2 linked regions of the Homo sapiens genome follow. The protein of the gene in region 2 purifies or fractionates together with the protein of the main gene of each other region. This does not show direct contact. Each region holds a gene or a part of one and is shown on either strand. Other genes may lie near its edges.

The links. Proteins that work in one complex are often made in the same cells at the same time.
Region 1: the proteins of MCM3 (region 2) and FKBP5 purify together in Homo sapiens (affinity purification with mass spectrometry; 2 studies listed by BioGRID and IntAct, with this or other methods). This does not show direct contact.

Annotation. Positions count from the first base shown.
Region 1 is NC_000006.12:35,678,909-35,682,562, reverse strand, and holds part of FKBP5 (peptidyl-prolyl cis-trans isomerase FKBP5), read left to right. Parts: intron 1-3,654. UniProt on the Homo sapiens protein: Immunophilin protein with PPIase and co-chaperone activities. Component of unligated steroid receptors heterocomplexes through interaction with heat-shock protein 90 (HSP90).
Region 2 is NC_000006.12:52,267,601-52,271,254, forward strand, and holds part of MCM3 (DNA replication licensing factor MCM3), read right to left. Parts: intron 1,627-3,654; coding exon 1,486-1,626; intron 407-1,485; exon of another isoform or gene 369-406; coding exon 265-368; intron 1-264. UniProt on the Homo sapiens protein: Acts as a component of the MCM2-7 complex (MCM complex) which is the replicative helicase essential for 'once per cell cycle' DNA replication initiation and elongation in eukaryotic cells.

The sequences.
Region 1 (3,654 bases), about 17 Mb from region 2:
AATGAGGAGTCCCCAGAAAATGGTCATTTCATTATCAAAAGCAGGGTTGCAAATTTCAGATTGATCTTTTCAAAAGTTAGATTTGTACTTGTTCTCAGTGTTCCTATCTCTGGAAACTAAAGAACCTCCTCCATTGTTAGCTGAAAATTGCACAGTGAATTTGAAAGTCAAGATGTCCCAGTCATGGACATAATGCTGCGATAGGTTACTTTTTGGAATGGAGAAAACATCTTAGAGATTGAGTCTGCATCAGAATATATTCTGAATGAGCATGGAATGTTCTTTACCCATGTTAGATATTAATTAATTAAGTTTTTCCATGTTTAACTTTTTTAAAAAAGCAAGACAATAAAAACAGTCTTGTAATCTGAACACATATTTTGGGTTTTGTTGCTAGCATAAAAATTATTACCTAGTGGATGGTAACACTGTTTTGAAATTCTAGCTTGGAGGAGATGTTTGTTACAAGAGAAAAGGTGTTTCATTGAAACCTAACAGGGTAATTTACATGGAGAGATACTTGTTTCTCTTTTGAGTTATTGTTAGGTTAAGACATAAACTTAGAAAAATTGAGATGCTCATCTTTCCCATCTTAGATTTACTTTCACTATGAACTTTATAAATTCTTTTTTTTGAGACAGTCTCACTCTATCGCCCAGACTGGAGTGCAGTGGCGTGATCAGAATTATTCAAGCTTATGTATGTGTGTGTATTACACATATATTACACATATGTATAAATATCAAATATCTTTTTTACATTATATATAATGGTATATATGGTTGCTATATGTTTTATGTGTGTATAGCAGTATCTATCTATACTGCCTTATTTCCCAGGCATATTTATATGCGAAACTTTTTTTCTGTGAAATCTTATTGTACCAAGAGGAATAAGTATATATGCCCACAAAAAGACTGGGTCATAGCAGCTTTTTTCACAGTAGGAATAAACTACTGATTCACATAGCAACATAGATGAATCTCAGAAATACTGTTCATAGCAAGAGAAGCCAGGCACAGATGAGTATGTATAAGTGTTTATGATGCCATTTATGAAAAATACAAGAACAGGCAAAACTAAGGTATGGTGATAGAAATCAGGACAGTGGTTGCCTCTGGGTAGGGGTTGTGGTTGACTGGAAAGGAGCACAAGGAAACTTTCTGGCATGATGGAAATATTCTGTAGCTTGACTTGGGTGATGGTAATTCAGTTATATACTTTTTGGGTAACTTCGTTTTCATGTAATTTTTAACTTACAGAAAAGTTGCAAGACTAGTACAAAGAGCTTCCGTATACCTTTATCCAGTTTTGCCAATTGTTATATACATTTACTCAAACATATTGATTCAAACTTAAGATTTTATAGTATGTAAATTTTACTTTAATAAAGGAAAGAAAGCTAAAAAAAGTGTTGAAAATGAGGATGATCTTGTTATCTAAAAAACATGAAATACCTCAGTTAGGAATTAACCAGTGGTTTAATAATGATGAGAAAAAGAATCGTTGGCTGTCTTTTGTCTTCATGTATATGTATTTATACTGCTTTTCACTAAAGACTCATGACATGTTTCTGTTAGAAGAAACAGGATCCTCAAAACGATTCAAGGTAGAACTGCCTACAAGGCAAACCTGCTTTATTTTGTTATCCTACACATGTCACCTAGGGAATGTGACTGAAACCTAGCAATAGCTTTCTGGGAATTGGAAGTTGTGACTGTTTCTGTTAAAAGAGTTGTATACCTACAATGTGCTAGCTGTTGCAAAGACATGAACAGTTTTTACTATCCTAGAACTTAGCCAAAGAAGAGGAGGCATACAAATCTGGTTGTTGTTTTTGGGTGGTGCTATTTTTCATAGGCAGGAAAGACATTGGTGTTTGTAAACTAAACTATTCTTGATCATTGGTAAGTGGTAAATCTGTCACTGTCTACTAGATTTAATGTTTCCACAGCCTCAATAGTGTGATTTGATTTAGATTAAATCAATTTAAATCATAGCTTAAACAATAATGGCTAAAAAAATTCAACTTTCCAATTCTACTACTTATTTTATGTAATTTTTAGTATGTGTTCATTACAATTTAGTATTAGGCATAATTAATGGATATTGGTTCTTTTTGTTTTTTCTTTTGAAACAGGGTCTAATTCTGTTGCCCAGTCTGGAGTGCAGTAGTGCGATCATAGCTCACTGCAGCCTGGAACTCCTGGGCTCAAATGATTCTCCTGCCTCAGTTTCCTGAGTGGCTGGGACTATAGGCGTGCACCACCATGTCTGGCTAATTAAAGAAAAATTGTAGAGACAGAGTCTTGCTGTGTTGCTCAGGCTGGTCTTGAACTCCTGGCCTCAAGTGATCCTCCCACCTTGGCCTCCCAAAGTGTTAGGACTGCAGGTATAAGCCACTGTGCCTGGCCTGGTTCATTTTTTTAAATCTTTTTTTTTTTTCCATCTACATCAGAAAGTTGTTTTATTTGGTCATATAGTCGAGTAGAAGATGTTTGAAGTAACTGGAGGGCTAACCAGATGCTTCAACAAATTAATCATTGATATTCAACATAAACATTTATTTTGCCTTTACTCATGAAAATAATAAAGTTATATGACCTATATATTTTTATTTATAAGTTTTTAAATTTAATATATTTTTATTTCAATAGCTTTGGAGTACAAGTGGTTTTTGGTTACATGGATGAATTATATCATGGTGAATTCTGAGATTTTAGTGCATCTGTTACCTGAGTAATACACATTTTACCCAATATGTAGTTTTTTATTCCTTTCCCCTGCCCTCTTCTGAGTCTCTAGAATCCATTATATCACTCTGTATGCCTTTGTGTACTCATAGTTTATCTCCCACTTATAGGTGAGAACATGCAGTATTTGGTTTTCCATTCCTGAGTTAGTTCACTTAGAATAATGTATCCAGCTTTATCAAAGTTGTTGTAAAAGACATTATTTCATTCCTTTTTTATGGCTGAGTAGTATTCCGTTGTGTGTGTATGCCATGTTTTCTTTACTCATTTAACTTATATATTTTTCAACAAAAACATAATTCTTTGAAGAATGACAGATGTCTGATATCAATCAACATGGATAAAAGGACTAACTTCTTCCATGTAATAAACATGTTCATATTTCTCTGAAATGACAGAATAGGCCTTTTCCCCTTTTATGGTCCATTTCACTATGGTGTTTAATTGATCAGTCGAGAATGAAGAAAACATTCTTTGAAAAGTATCTGCCAGAATTTTGTTTAGAATGGTCAGCCTTAACTGAAGATAGGATTTAAAAAGTATACCTGTAAGTAGACCTTTTTAGACTTTTTATTATGAAAGTTGCATACATACACAGAATCGTAGAGAATTGTCTAATGAAGTTCCATATACCTCCTCTCCAGATTCTTTAATGAACCTCCATGTACCCATTCCCCAGATTCATTAATTACTGACATTTTGGTTATTTGTATTTCATATATTTTTTTGAGACAGGGTCCTACTTGTTGCTCAGGTTGAAATGCAGTGGTGAAATCACAGCATGCTGCAGCCTTGACCTCCTAAGTACAAACAGTCCTCCCACCTCAGCCTCCACAGTAGCTGGGATTACAGGTATGCATCACCATGACCAGCTAATTTTTAAGTTTTTTTGTAGAGCCAC
Region 2 (3,654 bases):
CACTGCAACCTCTGCCTCCCAGGCTCAAGCAATCCTCCGACCCCAGCCTACCGAGCAGCTGGGACCACAAGTGTCCGCCACCACGCCCAGCTAATTTTTCTATTTTTTGTAGAGACAGTTTTGCCATATTTCCCAGGCTGGTCTCAAACTCCTGGACTCAAGTGACCCACCCGCCTCGGCCTCCCAAATTGCTAAGATTACAGGCGTGCACCCCCAACTTCTTGGCCACTAACTTTTTAATCTCATTTGCTTGCCCCACCTTACCTCTTCCTCTTCTGCTCCTGGTCCTCTTGGCTTTTCTCCTCTTCATCTTCTGTCTCTGATTCATCCTCACTTCGCTTCTTACGTTTCTTCTCCTTCTCCAGAACCTAAGACCAAGGCAAGTGTGGCTGGGCTAGAGGGGTCACTGATGCAGGGGAACTGCATCAAGAACTCCCAGTCCCTTCTGCATCATAAGCAGGAAAGACTTCCATGTTTCCAATGGTTTACCTAGCTCCTCTTGTCCCTAAGTCCCAGGACCAGGGGCAGAAGTAGAGACTGCTACCCATCTTTTCAAAATGCTGGGAAGTATGTTAAATGCTGTTTATATAGTAGGTACTCAATAAATGTTTACTGAATAAAGAAACAAATGTCTAGCCCATAATGGTTAAGTGAAAACAATCCATTTCCTTATAAATCAGGTGTCTAATTGAAATCCAAGACAACCCTTAACCTAGCAAAAAGCGAGGAAGAGTTTATCAGACTCACAACTCAACCCTTAACCTAGCAAAAAGCGAGGAAGAGTTTATCAGACTTACAACTCAACCCTTAACCTAGCAAAAAGTGAGGACGAGTTTATCAGACTCACAACTCAACCCTTAACCTAGCAAAAAGCAAGGAAGAGTTTATTAGACTCACAACTCAACCCCAAAAGGCTAACATTCACCAGACTGGGGTGGGAGTGGGCAACTAGGAAAAGGGAGTCTAGGCTTTGAGGCTTGATATCTAAAATGACAGAGGTGCAATGTCACAAACAGAAATAGGGAAACAGGATGAGTGGCAAGTTTGAGAGTTCAACTTTAAACATGAGCTTCTGAGGTGCCAATGGGACATTTGAAGAGACTACCAAGAGGAAAGGTAGAGTGGGACAAGGAAGATTACCAAGGTAGCTCTTTTGAAAACACCTACTTTTTTTTTTAAGATGCAAAGGAAGTAGGGGTAGACAGAGAAGCAGCTAACTGAAAGTACAGCACATCAACTAAACCAGAATCTCTAGGAGCCCTGGAATCAGCATTTTAAAGCTTTCCATCTGATTCTCTGGTGCAGTCAGGGTTGAGAATCACTGAGTGTTTCAGAGGAAAGAGTGAGGCAGACTGATGACTGGAAGACAAATACTGCTTTCTGTTGACAATCCAAATGTAGCCGTCAGCCACGGAAGGCTGGGAAGCCCATGCATCTGTAATATATCCAGGAGATCCTCTCATGCCCAGGCATCTGAATCCTCACCTTCTTAAAGTAAGCATACTGGACCAACTCCACAGCTTCCTCTGCATCCTGCAGGTCCACAGTCTTGCTCATGCGGGCCTTCGCATGGGCTGTGGCCAGTCGAATCAGAGTTTCCAGTGTTCGGGCTGTAACTGGAGATGTCTAGGGAAGAAAAGGGAGGATTGCTTATCCCAAGTCTTTTAGGCATGCCCATCAATCCTACTGCACAGAAAGGGAAATGACACTACCAGAAAAGCCCCAGGAGGCCCAAGCAAAGAATTCAGAGTTCTGTGTTCTCTACAGATACCATATAAAAATGAGAAAGATGATAGCAATGATCAAGGAAATATACACAAGAGTGTTGCAGGAAGGAGGAGCAAGTGAACAGGGAAGATTAGGCATCTAACAACTGGAAAGATAAAAAGCTACAGCGTAGAAAAGAGAAGGGAGAAAAATCATCAGTGATTGCAGGCCTGCAATGCAGCAGGAAGTTTGCCTTTATATACATTCTGTCATTTCACCCTCTTAATAACTTGGAGAAGTTTTATACATGAAGGAAATGGGACTCAAAGACCTTCAAGGAGATTTTCCAAAGTCACACTAAAGGAGGGATAGGAAAGAAGTAATCTGAGGACAAAAACGTAACTTCAGTAAACTCAGTCCGGAGAAGGAGAACTCTGACACATTCCTAACAAATGTTTCTCACAGGGGCCGATGAATACCAAACTGGGATGCCTTTATCTTTTAAAATGCTATTGTCTGAATGGCCTTTCTTGACCTAATCAATCAGAATGAATTGGAAATGAATGAATCAGAAATCTCAGTGTTTAGGACTAGATATGTGTACAAGTTTCAGGTGATTCTGATGTATCCAATCCTCTCATTTTATGGATAAGAAAGCTGACCTGACAGGTGAAAGGATTTGTCCACAGTCCAAAAGCTAGCTGCAGAGCTGGGATCAGACATGAAACTACTTCCAGCCCGGACGTGGTGGCTCACATCTGTAATCCTAGCACTTTGGGAGGCCAAGGCAGGCGGATCACAAGGTCAGGAGCTTGAGACCACCCTGACCAACATGGTGAAACCCCATCTCTATTAAAAATACAAAAGAAAAATTAGCCCGGTGTGGTGGCGCATGCCTGTAATCCCAGCTACTCAGGAGGCTGAGGCAGGAGAATAGCTTGAACCCGGGAGGCAGAGGTTGCAGTGAGCCAAGATCATGCCACTGCACTCCAGCCTGGGCAACAGAGCGAGATTCCATCTCAAAAAAAAAAAAAAAAAGAAAAAAAAAGAAACTACTTCCTTCTGTCACACCTCCCGGGTCTCCCATTATATGACCCCATCACTGACGTATCCTGGTCACTTCTTGTTTCAAGTTTCCTAAATTACCATGTATATCCACAATGACATTCAAAAATAAATACATTCACATTTAAATTCATTCATCAAATCTTGTAATAATTTAGAAAGCTACCGGAGTTTGGAAGTCATACACTCCATGACAAGTTCTAATTCTTAAACCACCTAAAAAGCTGGTGAAATCCTGGCCTGCACTAGCAGACCTAGAGAATCCAAATTCTCTTGGAATTCACTTACAGACCCCACACTAAGACAATTAAAATAGTGTATGACGCTCAGTTCTAGGTTCAATGAGAGGGCCTGGGACACACCAGAAGTTCGCATGTGGAAAGGAACAGTTAAAAAGAAAGTAAGCTGTTTAATGAGGAAGACAGGCGATACACAACCTCCAGAAAACAAGACTAACACCCACAGGTAAAAGTTGTGGGAAAATAGGTTTAAGCTTAATAAATATTCTAAAATTTCAAAACAGTGATGCTCTGCGCATGCTGTCACTGGGGGTATTAAGAAGTCCCGGCCGGGCTCATGCCTATAATCCCAGCACTTTGGAAGGCCGAGATGGGCGGATCACGAGGTCAGGAGATTGAGACCAGCCTGGTCAACACAGTGAAACCCCGTCTCTACTAAAAATACAAAATTAGCCGGGCATGGTGGCACGCACCTGTAGTCCCACCTACCCGGGAGGCGGAGGTTGCAGTGAGCCCAGACCATGCCACTGCACTCCAGCCTGGGTAACACAGCAAGACCGCATCTCAAAAAAAAAGTCCCAGCAGGGATTTGAAAAGACAGAGTGGGTGAGGCTTGAGTAGATGATCTGGGATCATGTCTAAT